Regions from separate parts of the Homo sapiens genome. Here region 1 is linked to region 2. A link means that fine-mapping ties the variant in region 2 to the expression of a gene that starts in the linked region. Tissue or cell type: monocytes after interferon gamma. Region 2 holds a variant in brackets; the other region holds the start of a gene. All regions are shown on one strand. Distances are between the middles of the regions.

Evidence for each region. PIP is the estimated chance that this variant, and not a neighbour inherited with it, causes the effect.
Region 1: BORA starts here. The variant in region 2 is fine-mapped to the expression of BORA in monocytes after interferon gamma (Fairfax 2014, PIP 0.95). The same link has a PIP of 0.9 or more in B cells, NK cells, monocytes and monocytes after LPS.

The regions. Positions count from the first base shown.
Region 1 is chr13:72,724,413-72,732,600 of GRCh38, forward strand. BORA (BORA aurora kinase A activator) reads left to right here and starts at 3,511. Exons shown (of 12, transcript NM_024808.5): 1 at 3,511-3,595; 2 at 4,514-4,681; 3 at 6,869-6,975. The coding sequence starts at 4,529. MZT1 (mitotic spindle organizing protein 1) reads right to left here and starts at 3,217. Exons shown (of 3, transcript NM_001071775.3): 1 at 3,112-3,217. The coding sequence starts at 3,190. RefSeq lists silencers at 2,663-2,722, 2,678-2,859, 3,383-3,532 and enhancers at 2,953-3,022, 3,743-3,792.
Region 2 is chr13:72,925,645-72,933,832 of GRCh38, forward strand. It overlaps PIBF1 (progesterone immunomodulatory binding factor 1), which reads left to right. Exons shown (of 18, transcript NM_006346.4): 14 at 5,521-5,623. Among named protein-coding and RNA genes, the nearest start is that of KLF5, 130 kb to the right of the region's middle. The variant A/G (reference allele first, on the strand shown) is at 4,977.

The DNA of each region.
Region 1 (8,188 bases), 200 kb before region 2:
TTCTTTCTCAAATGTGCAACTGGATTGATGGTGGTAGCATGGACTGTTTCGCTGGTACTGCCTTGCAGTGCTAGTCAAATGGAATCTATATACCATAGATTCTCTTAACTCCTTTCTCTATAACGTGTTTTTTTTTTTTTTTTTGAGATGGAGTCTAGCTCTGTCACCCAGTCTGCAGTGCAGTGGCGCAATCTCAGCTCACGACAACCTTCGCCTCCCAGGTTCAAGCGATTCTCCTGCCTCAGCCTCCCAAGTAGCTGGGATTACAGGCACCCGTACTTACTACTAAATATATATATATATATACATATATATATATATATATATACACATATATATATGTAAAGTGGTGCTACAGGCCGGGCACAGTGGCTCACGCCTATAATCCCAGCACTTTGGGAGGCTGAGGCGGGTGGATCACCTGAGGTCAGGAGTTCCAGACCAGACTGGCCAACATGGTGAAACCCTGTCTCTACTAAAAATACAAAAATTAGCTGGGCGTGGTGGCGGGCGCCTATAATCCTAGTTACTCCAGAGGCCAAGGCAGGAGAATTGGTTCCCATCCCCAGCTTCAACCTGGGAGGCGGAGGTTGCAGTGAGCCAAGGTCGCGCCACTGCACTCCAGCCAGACTCGGTCTCAAAAAAAAAAAAAAAATAGTGCTATGATAAAGCCTCTCATAAGGAATAATTATCAAAATTAAAATTCAGATGCACAGGACGATTTTAGAGGAAAATAAAAATTAAGGTATAAAAAGCAATCAATAGAGAGTACCTAACATACCAAAAAGTTGAAAAGCAAAAGAGGCAACCATACACAGTGGGTTGCGAGGGGGGTGTTGTTGAAAAGGCACGACTATTTTAAGCGTGTAGAATTTTAGGGATATAAGGATGAAAGCAGAGATCTCATGCAGACCTTATTCTAAATTGGCAGAGATAGTTCTTTTCAGAGTGAGGTGCACAGATAATTTATTAATAGAAAGTTAGCCTGCTTCCTTCCATGTCTTTAACAAAATCCTTTCATTTCATGATCAAAATGCAAATGTAGCCAAGAGTTCTGCAATTCACATGACTTAAAGGGAGGTTCACAAATGCTACCATTGAGGGGAGAAATGGTATTCAAAAAGTTTTGAAAATTTTATTTTTGATCTCACGGGTTGATTTAAATACTGTGTAACACCACATCCCCTCTCCTTCATTTTTTGTTTTACTTCACTTTTTTGTGTTCTTACTCTCTTTATAATCTTCATTTCACACCAAGTTTTCTCAGAAGAGATCTTGATGATGCAGCCAACACAAACCATCAGTTCTCAATTGTACATCAGTGATTCCACCAGAGAAAATGTGAGTTTTCTGTTCAAATGGGATCCTGTGGCCATATACATAAGGAACCTAAGTACAGCTAACCTAAGAAAATAGGCTAGAAGTGAGGTCTTATACTCTACCTTTTTCCAAGGAAATATACAAGACAGTAAATTTATATTTATATACACACACATATATATATTCATACATAAATCCACTTACAAAATAAAACTATTAAGTGTTGATACATCGAAAAGGATAGAAAAATAAGCTGAATATTAAGAGTAACATTCTCAGAAAAACAGCAAGGTAGATACTGAACAAGTGAAAAATTAGATGCAAAGGCTCTAAAAGTGTAATTCTTTGAAAAGAAAACCAGGACCAGTGCAGAAAAAGCCAGCAGCCCCTCTGCAAGTGCTACATAAGAAAATGAGGCCGGGCATGGTGGCTCACGCCTGTAATCCTAGCATTTTGGGAGGCCGAGGCATGTGGATCACCTGAAGTCAGGAGTTCGAGACCAACCTGGCCAACATGGGGAAACTCCGTCTCTACTAAAAATACAAAAAATTAGCCGGGTGTTCTGGCGGGCACCTGTAATCCCAGCTACTCCAGAGGCTGAGGCAGGAGAATCGCCTGAACCCGGGAGGCGGAGGTTGCAGTGAGCCGAGGTTGCGCCATTGCACTCCACCCTGGGCAACTACAGCAAGACTGTGTCTCAAAAAAGAAAAAAAGAGCCTACGGTGAAGGAGAGAGAGATACAGCAGTGAGAATTTCATAGGGTTATCTTTTAACAGAGACGGAAGCTGACGTGAGTAGACCCTGGAAAACGTCTAGGCCCACTGCAAATAACAACATCGATCAAACACTCATAATACAGGTGGATGTGAGTAAAAAGGAGACAAAGAAAGAAGACTACAAGAGAGAGGCCATCTGAAATAATATAAAAATAATTGATCATCTTTGATATGTTTTTACATGGTTGTCTTATTTAAATATTCACAACTCCTGGAGGTAGGGTTTTATTTTACAGAAAAAAAAAAAAAAAAAACTAAACAGGCTCAATGATGTTTAAGTATCTAGTCCAAGCTCACCACAGGGGCATAAAGTGGCAGAACCGACATTAGAGGGTAGACAGAGGGTAACCGCAAGACACAAATTTCGTGTTCTGCAACACTTGTGTAGGCTTCACACACACGTGCCTCCGGGGCCGAAAACAGGCGACACCATAGCACTTGGGCACTGGTGTCACCCGCTTCAAGAGGAAACTAGGATAATTATGACCAAAGGGGAACTTGTTCATTCGCCGGATATTAAAGGTGCCTACTTAAGTGCGAAGAACAGGAGGCATAGCGGTGACCAAACACCTGGCCCCTGTCCCCGCCGGGATCCCAACCTTGGGGACCCCCGAAGCGCCCCGGGCGGGAATCGGGTGGGACGCGGCACGCAGGAGGGAACGGGTGTACTGGGTGGGGTGGGCGTGACGCTGTCACCGCAGGAGATCGGGCGGGTAGGGCGGACCTGGGATGCGGGATAGAGGGGGCGCGGCATTCGCGCGAGAGGGACGCGGTGCGCAACCGGCTGACTAGGGGCCGCAACGCCTAGCGCGCGCGACAAACTACGCAGCGGCGGAGACAACTCTCAAGGGATAGGGCCATCAGCCCTGCGGCCCTGGCAGGTCCCTACCAAAGATCTTGGAAGATGCCGTTTGGGGCACTAAGGGGACCTGAAGTCCTCCCCAGGCTCATTCCCGCCTGGGGGCCTTGGCTCTGGGAAGGCACGCAAGGTAAAGGGAGCGCAACGGAAACTCACCGTCCATGGTCTCCCGCACCGCATTCAGATTCGCCGCCGCGGCCGCCGCCGCCGCCCCAGCACCGCTGCTACTCGCCATGGCTAAGGCCGAGGGAGGCGGGAGAAGGGCCTGACCCGGAACTGGAGCGCCTTCCTCTCTCCGAGGCAATCACACAGCGCGTCTCGGCCCACGCCGGGCAGGCTCCGCCCCTCGCGCTCGCCGCCGGCGTGAGGCTGCGTTGATTTGAATTTGGAGCCACGTTCCTCTGCGCGGAACGTGGAGCGAGGAGTTGCCATTCGAATTTCCTACGCGGCCTCCGTGCGATTGGCTGGTTCGCGGATGGCGGGACGACACGATTGGCTAGTCGCTCACAAGCCCCGTGCCCTGGTTGGCCCAAGACAGCGCGGAAGCGGGGAGTTAAAGAGTCTATGCCTGTCGTGGAAGCTGGCCTGGCCCCCGGAGCTCCCTGGAGTCGGTACTGGGGGCTTCGTTTTGTACGCACCGGTAGGTACGCTCTTTGTGGTCCCTGGCCTTTCCTCCTGTCTGAATGGAGAGGTTTCTTTTCCCAGCTCCTGACTTGCCTGCCCGCTCGCCCCTGGTGAATGGGAGCAGTCAGGGAGTAGGTGTGGAAGAGAGGGGCACCAGAAAGAGTGGCCACGTAGGGTTGGGGGCGACGCCTCCTTCGCACTCCATCCAGGGAAGCCGGCTGCATCTCAACCTTCCAGAAGTAGACTCTTTTCCACCCCACCCCGCCAAGGTGTAGCCTCTGTAGCCTCCTTTGATTGCAAGTAATGCAGTCTCCCTTTCTATCCCGGGAGGGGTGGAGGGGAGGTCTTGGCGAAAGGAGGATTTTTGGAGGAAAGGGGACCCCAGGCAGTTAATTTCCTAGCCCCTGTCAATCATACTTCTCTGGCTAGGACTCATGTGCAAGAAAGGCACAAGCTTCCTCATCTCTTACCTGCTTGCTACAAAGAATTGTTTAATAGCAACTGTAGTTGGATAGGGTATCCGAAGAATGTTCATAGTGTTGAGACATGAGATGATGAATTTAAAAAAAATTGTAGCTATAAGTCCTTTAGTTGAGAAGAGATCTGGGCCTGTTGTAACCTTTAGTTTCCTCAGAGGCAGATCTGAATTCATTCATATTTGATTGCTGCGTATAAGCCACTTCACTTCTCTGAGCTTAATACTTTCGCAAAATAATATCACTAGTAAGTTACTGCTATAGCTTTCAAGGTTGTTTCGAGGATCAGTTGAGAACATTTATATGTGATACTTTTTTTGTAAGCTGTATCATAGCCCCAAGAGTGTGAGGTTTTGAGTTGTTTTTTGTGACACATTTGTCGAGTACATTTTAATAGTTAAAATTAATATCTATGGGACTTTGTAATTTTAACATGCATACTCTTGATTTCTTTTTAGTTTTCTCTCTGTGCTATGGGAGATGTCAAGGAATCAAAGATGCAAATAACACCAGAAACTCCAGGAAGGATCCCTGTTTTAAATCCTTTTGAAAGTCCTAGTGATTATTCTAATCTCCATGAACAAACTCTCGCCAGTCCTTCTGTTTTTAAATCAACAAAATTACCAGTAAGTTATTCCTGACTAGTGTTTACAACTAATTTTAAATGTAAGTAATTACAAATAATTTTAAATGTAAACATCTGTCTTTACAAGGTAAGGAGGAAATACATTATGGAGCATATATAGCTGCAATATACTTTTTTAAATTGTAGTGTTCATTATAATCTAGTGGTTAGGTTAATAAGTTAGCTAGAAGATTTTTTTTTTTTTAAGTTCAAGAACATACGTTAGCTTCCTGCAGTTGTGGGTGTAGCTACATTCTGTGGTTGACGATATAGCTACTAATACATTAGAGAAGAAGCTGCATCATCTAATATTCTGTTCTCACTTATTTGGCAAACATTATTTGAGTGTTGCTATGTGTCAGATACAGTGCTAAGCAGGGATTACACTGTGAACAAGTTAGGATCATTAGGCACAAATCCTTAAGGAGGTTATACTCCGATGTATGGGTCACAAACTTTCTGTTAGGGGCCAGACAGTAAATATTTAAGCTTTACAGGTCATTTGGTCTCTGTCACAACTACTCACTTCTGTCTTGTATCACAAAAGCAGCCATAGGCAATGTGTAAAGAGATAAATGTTACTCTGTTCCAATACAGCTTTATTTATGGACACATTTGAATTTCATATAATTTTCACATGTCACAAGATATTTTTTTGTTTGTTTTCCCAACCATTTGAAACTGTCAAAATAATTCTTAGCTTGCAATCTATTATAAAAAGAAACTAACCCCTATTTTAATGTGTTAAACAGAACTAGATGAGTAATATCAAGGCAGTGTGATAGGTGATATGATTAGTACTTAGGACAATAGTAATATGAAGGAAAAGTGTTCTTCAGGATATTAGAAAAGGCTTCATCACTTTATCTTTTTTTTTTTTTTGGTAGAGATGGGATTTCACCATGTTGGCCAGGCTGATCTCGAACTCCTGACCTCATGTGATGCACCCACTTCAGCCTCCCAAAGTGCTGGGATTACAGGCATGAGCCACCATGCCCGGGCCACTTTATCTTATTTTACTGTTATTTGCTACACTGGATAAGTTCTTTTGACCTTGGATCTTTCAACCTACCAAGTTACTTAGAAAAACTGCAAATAGGGTGGCTGTTTCTGCTACACTTTCATACAGGTTTTACAATGAGCAAGTATGTACTAGTGGAAGGTCGAGCAGTTTATATTGAGTCATTTCATCAATCTGACCTTATGATTTTTAATTGAATCATTAAAATTTATCTCTTGGTCTTACTAAAAATAAATAATAGATTGACGGCAGCTTAATCCTCAAAGTTGGAATGTATGGCATCTTGCGTTTTTAGGACTGAATTTGCCTAGAATATATTTCTAATTACAGATTAGGATTTGGATAAACCTTTAATTCAGTTGCATGGTTGAGTACAGAAAGGCAGCACTGGTTGCCATTCATAATTATTTTAAGGATCAACTATGTTGTGAGCTTTTGCAGCCACCTCCAAAGTGACTAAGGACTTTAATTTCAGTTCCTTCTTAGTGAAAGTAAAGACGTTTGTTAACTGTGAGAGATTTTTACTTTTACATGGGCTTAGTTTATCACACTGATGAGTGTTAATTGTGAAAGTTTTATATCTTTATTACTCTGTTGTGATTTTTCTCGTATTACGTAATTCCAACCCAGGTGAAAGATTCTGATATTTTAAAAGAGATACAGGCTGGGCGCTGTGGCTCATGCCTGTAATCCCAGCACTGCCAAGGTGGGCTGATGACTTGAAGTCAGGAGTTTGAGACCAGCCTGGCCAACATGGTGAAACCCCATCTCTACTAAAAAAAAAAAAAAAAAAAAAATACAAAAATTAGCTGGGTGTGGTGGCGGGTGCCTGTAATCCCAGCTACTCAGGAGGCTGAGGCAGGAGAATCGCTTGAACCGGGGAGGTGGAGGTTGCAGTGAGCTGAGATTACACCAGTGCACTCCAGCCTCGGTGACAGAACGAGACTCTGTCTTAAACAAAGAGAGAGAGAGATACAATTAAGTCAGTTGATCGAATGTGATATGATTACCCTTTGCCATTTAATTTCATGGTAAAGTCAAATTTTAAAATACAAGCTTTAAAATATTTTCATATTATAACCATTCATATTATTTCTCACATAGGTTAGCATTTTGATGAACTATTTTAGTTTGCCTTTACTCATAAGCTCACTTTCTTTTGTTAAGACTCCAGGGAAATTTAGATGGTCTATTGATCAACTAGCTGTAATAAATCCTGTAGAAATAGACCCAGAAGATATTCATCGTCAAGCTTTATACTTAAGTCATTCTCGGTAAGTTTTCCTTTCTTGCACCTAAGTCTAATAACACTCTCAAGTGAAGAGAGGTAGGAAATTCTAAATGTTGAGTATTTTTCTATGTAAAGGTATCAGGGAGAAAAAATTTTGATGCAGATTTTTTCTATCTAAATGAATGAGTTCAAAGAACTACATTCAGAAAGATTTTCTTGCCAACAGTTCCAGACCTGAGTAGATACCTTTTTCTTTTACAAGTAACCTTTTCCCTCTGCTACTGAGGTGACAGCTCTGTACCCCTAGCACTCAGTTAAGAGAAGAACATTTTGAAATTTGCACTTTTCTACATGGTTGTGGCTTCTGCCATTAACTTGTTTCAGTTTGTCTTTTTGATGATTTGGGGTAAAGCAAAATGCTGTTTCATTGTTATCTATGTTTGGGGAAACCTAAAACCCCCTCAAAGAGTTACGTATGCACTGAATGGAAGGGTATCCATTAGCAACAGAGCGGTTTTTTAGACATCATCCAACTGTAACAATTCACTTGGAATCTGAATTACATTTTCTAGAATTCTACATATCACCCAGTGCAGTCTTATTTGTTGATGTGTTGTTTAGGTTTCAAGGCACTAATGTACTGCAGATTTAGTTTTTTATTACAAAGTGTAAGGTCCTATTATTCTTTTGTAGTTTTAGGGACTCTTGTTTATATGTTTTATAGTCTGATTTTTTAATATTTGAAAAAAATCAAATACATGGTATGACCAGATTTTAATTTGCTGTCCTAAGGTAGACATGTTGTTAGTCCAAAACAAAGGATAATCCTTTTCCCTTTGACTTAAGAATTCAGTCACACAACGTTGCACACATATTGAGATATTCTGGTAAATACTTACTGGCTTTTCTCCTCCATCTTCTCTTTGCTTGGTAACATGATGACCATTCAATCATAAAATTAATGTCCACCCAGAGTGTTAATAGGAAGGGAATAGAATGAGGATGAAGCATGAAAGGATTTTAACTTAAATTTAAATAATACCTTTGAGGCCAGGTGTGGTGGCTCACACCTGTAATCCCAGCATTTTGGGAGGCTGAGGCGGGCAGATCACTTGAGGTCATGAGTTCAAGACCAGGCTGGCCAACATAGTGAAACCCCATCTCTACTAAACATACAAAAACATTAGCCGGGCATGGTGGTGCACACCTGTAATCCCAGCTACTCGGGAGGCCGAGACAGGAGAATCGCTTGAACC
Region 2 (8,188 bases):
GATTCTCCTGCCTCAGCCTCCTAAGTAGCTGGGATTACAGGCGCCTGCCACCACACCCAGCTAATTTTTGTATTTTTAGGAGAGACGGGGTTTCACCATGTTGGCCAGGCTGGTCTCGAACTCCTGACCTCAAGTGATCTGCCCACCTCAGCCTCCCAAAGTGCTGGGATTATAGGCATGAGCCACCGCACCCGGCCCTGTTTTTCTTTTTCATGACAAAACTGAAATGGTTAAAATCTTTTTACTTTCTTAATGGTGCATTTTGAAGCCCAGAATTTTAAAATTTTGATGCAGTCCAGTTTATCCAATTTTTTTTGTTACTTATGCTTTTGCTGCCCTGAGAATCTTTTGCTAAATCTAATTTTGTGAGGATTTACTCATATGTTTTCTTCTAAAAGTTTATAGTTTTAGCTTCTGTATTTAGGTCTTTGATCCATTCTAATTAATTTTTTGGTATCATATGAGGTAAGGGCTTTGTACTGTTTATTAATGTGGCTACTAGAAAATTTTAAATTGCATATGTGGCTTGCATTATATTTCCATTGGACAAAGCTGACCTAGACCAGTGGTCTCCAAACTTTTTGATACGAATTTTTATTGGGAAAAAATTTGAGTACACACTCAGCAATATATGCATATGTATTCATATTTATTTATAGATTATGTACGCATGTGCTATCATATGAATAGTATGCACATAATGATATAAAACCTACACAGCAAATGAAAACTTAAGATAATTTAACATTAAAATAAATGTAAGTAAAAGTTCCCACAGTTCAAGAAATAATTTTGCACATAACTACTTTTAAAGACCACTGGTCTAGATTATGATCATAACCTTCTAAATGACTGTAGTCTTCTTCCTTCTGCAGGCCATCCTGCACACTACTGATAGAGCACTCTTTCTAAAGTGCGGGCCAGATCGTGTTATGTCTAACCAACTTCAGGATAAAATCCAAACATACAAGGCTTTTCATAAAATATCTCTGCCTATATCTCTCTAGCTTCAACCCTCACCATGCACCATATATTATTGATCTATACTCTACTACTTAGAATTTTCCCTAGCACTTCATCCTCTACATAGGCATTTCCCTCTACCTAAAATGCTGTTTCTCTGCTTCTTCACCAGATTAGTTAGTATAGTTTTTATTCCTTAGTGGTATGCCTTTTCTTAGCATTTAGCATACTACAGTAATTTTTAAATTTGCCTGTCTTCCTCAGTAGACTATTAGATCTTCCCAGTAGATATTATGTATTCTCAGTGCCTATGCAGATTATAGGTTTTTAATACATGTTTCTTCAAAGGAAGTGTTCATGAATATTTTTCGAATGAATTAATGAGTGTGTTTCTTCTAATTCACCCTGCTTTTCTGCAGTCATTGATATTCATCACCAAGAAAAAATAGTAATTTCCTTTTTTTTTTTTTTTGAAACAGAGTCTCACTCAGTTGCCTAGGCTGTAGTGCAGTGGCACGATCTTGGCTCACTGCTTACTGCAACCTCTGCCTCCCGGGTTCAATAGATTGTTGTGCCTCAGCGTTCCAAGTAGCTGGGATTAAAGATGTGTGCCACTGTCCGGGCGTGGTGGCTCACGCCTGTAATCCCAGCACTATGGGAGGCCGAGGTGGGCGGATCACGAGGTCAGGAGATCGAGACCATCTGGCTAACATGGTGAAACCCTGTCTCTACTAAAAGTACAAAAAATTAGCCGGGCCTAGTGGCGGGCACCTGTGGTCCCAGCTACTGAGGAGGCTGAGACAGGAGAATGGCGCGAACCCGGGAGGCGGAACTTGCAGTGAGCCGAGATCGCGTCACTGCACTCCAGCCTGGTGACAGAGCAAGACTCCAACTCAAAAATAAAAATTAAAATAAAAAAAAGATGTGTGCCACCACACCCAGATAATTTTCGTGTTTTTAGTAGAGGTGGGGTTTTGCCATGTTGGCCAGGCTGGTCTCAAACTCCTGGCCTCAAGTGATCTGCCTGCCTTGGCCTAATTTTTTTTTACTGTTTTTGTTTTACTGTAAGTATTATAATGATGAAAAACAGTTATATTTCTTGTTTCTGCTGTGTTCTTTTGCTTAAATATATCTTTATATTTCTTTTCATTAAATCTTAATATAATCTCTTATATCCTTAATAATACAATCTTAATAAATCTGAGTATAATCTTTTAATGAAAGATTTTATATTATCTTTTGTTCTTTTCTGTGTATGTGTGTTTGTACTACATTAGTGGGCTAAATGGGTCTTTTAGGGCAACTGAGAACTTTAATACCATTTCTAATATATGTGTGTATATATATATATACACATATATATATATATACATATATATATACACACACATATATATACATATATATACATATATATACATATATATATATATATATACATATATATATGAGGAAATGTGTTTTACTGTTCTTACAACTGACTTAGAGGTGAGTTTTTAAAATGTGAACCCCATATATACTGGAGACCAATTGTACCATGTTGTCTTCTACATTATTATCATTATGCATCATAAATGACATCAACAGTCATACTAATACTCACGGTCCTTCCCGTCACCATCAATTCTCAGAAAGTTTTTCTCAGTAAAATTGTACTATAAACTAGTAATCAAAGCACTGTAGAGTATATTTGTAAGCAATTTGAAGATACCTTAGATACTTTCCTTCTATTTAGAGTTGATTTTCCTTACTTGGAATCTCCCAGTCAAAATCAGGGAAATTCCTTTTTGAAGAAAGTAGTCCTGGTGTTAAGGCTTAAGCACTAGCATACCAAGAATTTCTTTTTTTTGAGATGAAGTCTTGCTCTTGTCCCCCAGGCTGGAGTGTGATGGCACCATCTCAGCTCATTGCAACCTCCGCCTCCCAGGTTCAAGCGATTCTCCTGCCTCAGCCTCCTCAGTTGCTGGGATTACAGGCGCCTGCCACCACGCCCAGCTAATTTTTGTATTTTTAGTAGAGACAGGGTTTCACCATGTTGGCCAGGCTGGTCTTGAACTCCTGACCTCAGGTGATCTGCCTGCCTCAGTCTCCCAAAGTGCTGGGATTATAGGCGTGAGCCACCTCACCCGGCAAGAATTTCTTGAGTCAGTGTTTTATGACTTATGATATTTTTATTGGTAAGCGGTATCACCCTATCTGTATAAGAACATTATAGAATTCCCAAACAAAATAAAAGCACTCAAACCAAATGAACAATTTAACATTATTAAACTTGATGTCTTCAAGTCATTATCTTGTTCAGATTGTTGGTAATATGTGACCTCTGCATCTCATTTTCTTGCATGTCTTTGTCTTCCATTTCATTCATTTGTAACTCTAGTTCTGTGTAATTGCATTTGATTGTGTTTATTGTTCTATACTGAGTATACACATACTTGTTCTACACCTTCAACATATTTATTGAAAAATTACCATGTTTAAGTGACCCTAGTGTGAAGTTCTGTGGGACACAAAAAGATAAAAAAAAGTTAACACCTAACATGTATGAAGAGTAAGAAAGCAAGAATAAAAATGTGAATAAAGATAGCTCCAAGATTTTTTAATTAACCTAATAAAAATAGAGCTAATGATAAACTGATGCTTGCAAACGTATAATGGAATCAACGGATTTTAAATGCAAAATTCACATTAAGGCTTATTTTATTTGTAGAAATCTTGTTATTTTAGGGTCAAATTAGAGAGAACTTAGTATATTTTTATTGGGAAATGAAGAACAATATAGTCATAAACTGTAAACTCCTTAAAAATTTATAAAGAGAGAAAGATTAATGGTTCCCTAAGGTTGAATTTGAGGAGCAAAGGAGGAAGTTGGAATGTGGGGAGGATGGAGAGTGACTGGTAATGGACACAGAAATTCTTCTTGAGATAATGAAAATGCTCTAAAATTAGATTATAGTGATAGTGGCACAACTCTAAATATACTAAAAATCATTGAATTGTACACTTTAAATTGGTGGACTTTATGATATTTAAGTTGCATATCAGTAAAATTGTATGTCAGTAAAGTTTAAAAAAAAAGTGGTTGTCAAAAAATGAGGACTGTATGCTTTTTCCATCTCTAATGCCAGTTGAAAGAATTTTAGATCTAAACAAGCAACTCAAATCACTTTATAAACTTTTGCCAGAACTCATCTTTTTTATTTGGTATGAGTTCTTAGAAATAGATATATAGAATGATATTTAACACTATTTATTATTATTATTATTTTTAGAGACAGGGTCTCTGTGTCACCCCAGGCTGGATTGCAGTGGCACAATCCTAGCTCACTGTAACCTCGAACTCCTGGGCTCACGTGATCCCCCCATCTCAGCCTCCCAAGTAGCTGGAACCACAGGCATGCACCATCATGCCCAGCTAATTTTTGTATTTTTTGCAGAGGCAGGGTCTCACCCTGTTGCCCATACTGGTCTTGAATTCCTGGCCTCAAGTGATCCTCCTGCCTCAGCCTCCCAGAGTGCTGGGGTTGCAGGCATGAGCCACCGCGCCTGGCCTTAACATTATTTTTTAGAATGTTGTCTGCATTTCTTTATCTGATATTGGGAAATATTAAAATACAATAGAATTTTTTCTGCCCTATGATTTTATTTAAAGCACAGTTATCTTACTTTTTGTCATTATAAAACATTCCATCTAGGATTCCATGGATTCTGCAATTCACAGATTAATAGGTTAACTAGTATAAAATATGAAAATATGATAAATATGAAAATGTTAAGTTACTGGAAATGCAGAGAGGTTCTTTGGAGCAATATGTCTTCTCAAAATTATTAGCAGTTCTTTAAAGAAATATACCACTTCCTCCCACCATAGTTAGAAGGAATAGATTTTATTCTTAAAATTGTTTCTTAAAAGTAGAATTGAGATGTTTCATATGTAATTTTAAATACTAAAGGTCAGTGCAATAAGTTATGGTAATGCAGAGCATCAGAGGGAGTGATTTTTTTCTTTTAGT[A/G]CAGAAGCTTAGCCTTTACTATAGACATTCTCTAAGTTTTATATATCTTTTTCATCTCCACTTTCAATTAAAAACCTCATTTTTGTTTTATATTATAACATGCATTATGTTGTTTAAAGTAAACTCTGATACTTCTCAAAGTGATAAGCTAATTATTGTTTGTAATATTTCAACTAATTTTCTGATTTGTAATTGGAAAATATTTATAAAAGTGGAGACAAGCTGTAAATTGCTGTATTGTGGTCTTTTCAAGCAAGTGTTATAATGTTACCTCTCCACTTTTATAGCAAGGGCTAAAAACCGTTACTGCAGTAATCAGTCTATCACGGTTATGTTTTAATGTTGTTACTCTCATAATTCTGAGTTGTGGGGTATTGGTCTTCCACTACTGGTGCCTGAAAATATTATTTGACTCTATATTTTTTCTGTTAATATTTAAGTATAATTAGGAAATGATGTCTATTTTCAAGTACACAAACACATTTTGAATATTTTGGGCAGTATTTCACTTTTAAGCATTAATTTTCTTATTTCATTTGCCTAGTGTTCACTTGGCAAGAAGAGTGCTTCAATTAGAAAAACAAAACTCGCTGATTTTAAAAGATCTGGAACATCGAAAGGACCAAGTAACACAGCTTTCACAAGAGGTAAATAACTTAAAGAAACCCATATGAAGAATCACAGTATTCATTTTAATTGTTTGTAACTCTTTTATTTTTCTAAGCAGTTTTAAAATAAGCTGTTTGCTAGTACAAAATGATTTCACAATTTATGAAACTAACTGAATGTTAAGGCCATAAAAAACAACTTACAGTGTATGGCAAAACTGAGAACAAAAGGGAGATTAAATGCCCAGACTAAGTATAAATGCAGACTAGACAGACAGAGCTTTGATTTCTGAGAATATCAACTGGTAAAACAGGTTTGGCAAACTTTGGTGACATTTTAAGTTTTTTACTAATCATTTTTAAGATAGATTTGGTTTTTACCTCTGTGTTTAATGAGAAATCACTCCTCTGTTAAATTTAACTTTGTTTACACTTAGAAAATCAGGCTCATATTGCTTCTTTTTCTTAGCCTTATGTCATTTAAACTACGTATATATATATATATATATATATATGTATGCATTTTACATAGCATTTTTAATCATCTTCTGATGTCAAGATCTAATTTTATTTTTCTGTACTTTTGAAATGCGAGTCATAAAACAATTTAAACCGGAGGTACTACTTTGCTAATGTTCCTTTTATTTATTTATTTAATATTCCTGAGTGTCAACATAAGAAGTTTTTCCGTTTTTTTCTTTGTTTCTTTCTTTTTTTTTTTTTTTTTTTCTGAGACAGGGTCTGGCTTTATCGCCCAGACTGGAGTGCAGTGGCATGATCACAGTTCATTGCAACCTCTGCCTCCCAGGGTCAAGGACTCCTCCCTCCTCAGCCTCCCAAGTAGCTGGAACTGTAGCTACGCACTACTGTGCCTGGCTAATTTTTGTATTTTTTTGGTAGAGACAGGGTTTCACCATGTTGCCCAGGCTAGTCTAGAACTTCTGGGCTCAAGCGATCCACCTGCCTAGGGCCTCTGAAAGTACTGGGATTGGAGATGTGCCACTGCACCCAGCCAAGAAGTTAATATTTTAAAAGTTTTAAAAACTATTTCTCTTATAACAAAGGGTTTTTTCAAGTCATACATTAAATAACATTAATATATGTTGTTTATTATTTGTTTTCTTAAGGATCTGTTTATATTCTTTAGAGTGTCTTTTCATACTATAACATTAGGAGGATCTTTATCCTCAAATTTCGAAAGACCAGAAATACTTCATTTTATTGCAGTTCCTGACACATAGTTAATGCTTGGGGTTGACACAGTGGTGTGTTGGTAAATGTTAACAGCCAGCTTTCCAAGAGGGATATGAGGGAGAGCTTGATTTGTAACATTGGCTTGTATCTCTTTTATAAATACTCCCACCATGGCTGACTTCAAACTACCAACCTAAGGTTACTGAAGATGGAGTAAAGATTGTCAGCAGCATACCAGTACTTAATGTTTGCACCATACAGATACAACAGACATAGGTAAACTCAAGAGCACAGATAATAGTAAAATAATTTTAAATTGACAAATTTGATTGTTTTTACCTTTGTTTTTAATAAAATGTATTTTACTATAAATTTAAATAATTTAGTTTAGTTTTTAATGCTAGTTGTGTTTGATAGCCAGCCCACAAAATTCCTAAAAATTTTCAGGATTCATTTGTACTTCATTCTTTTCATTGCTGAGTAATTTCTTTGTGTGGATGTACCAGTTTGTTTATCCATTTACTTGTTGATGGACATTGGAGTCATTTCCAGTTTTTGGAATAAAGCTCATATGAACATTCATGTACAAGTCTTTGTATGAAATAATAGAGAACTCCTACAAGCTGCTGCAAGCCAAGTCCAGCACACTGCTAGGTGGAAGCAGAAAAGATAATAAACAAACAAACAAACCTCTGTTTGCTAATATATTGTAGATCCCTCATGTTGCCTTTAATTTCACAGTAATTTTCAAAAATATTTTTTAAAAGTAAAATATTAAAATACATGCCTTCCTGAGCATTTCAGTTAATTGAAATAAGAATTTCTAAATGTGGGCTGGATGCAGTGGCTCATGCCTATTATCCCAGCACTTTCGGAGGCCAAGGCAGGAGAGTCACATGAGCTGAGGAGTTTGAGCCTTGGCTACAAAGCAAGATCCACCATCTCTAAAAATAAAGAAGCCGGGTGCACTGGCTCATGCCTGTAATCCCAGCACTTTGGGAAGCCAAGGCAGGGGGATCACTTGAGGTCAAGAGTTCAAGACCAGCCTGGCCAACATGGTGGAACCCTGTCTCTACTAAAAATACAAAAATTAGCTGGGCATGATGGCACATGCCTGTAATCCCAGCTACCTGGGAAGCTGAGGCACGAGAATCACTTGAGCCTGGGAGGCGGAGGTTGCAGTGAGCTGAGATCGTGCCATCGTACTCCAGCCTGGGCAACAGAGGGAAACTCTAGTCTCAAAAATAAAAAGAAAGAATTTCTAAATGTGAACACACGTCTATAAATTGTTGGGAGAAAATGTAAGAAATTAAGTGTTAAATGCTCCTATAATTAAGTATAATTAACTTTGTATGAAACCATTTTTAAATAAGCTATGGCTTATATTGAGAAAAAGACTTAAATGCTGAA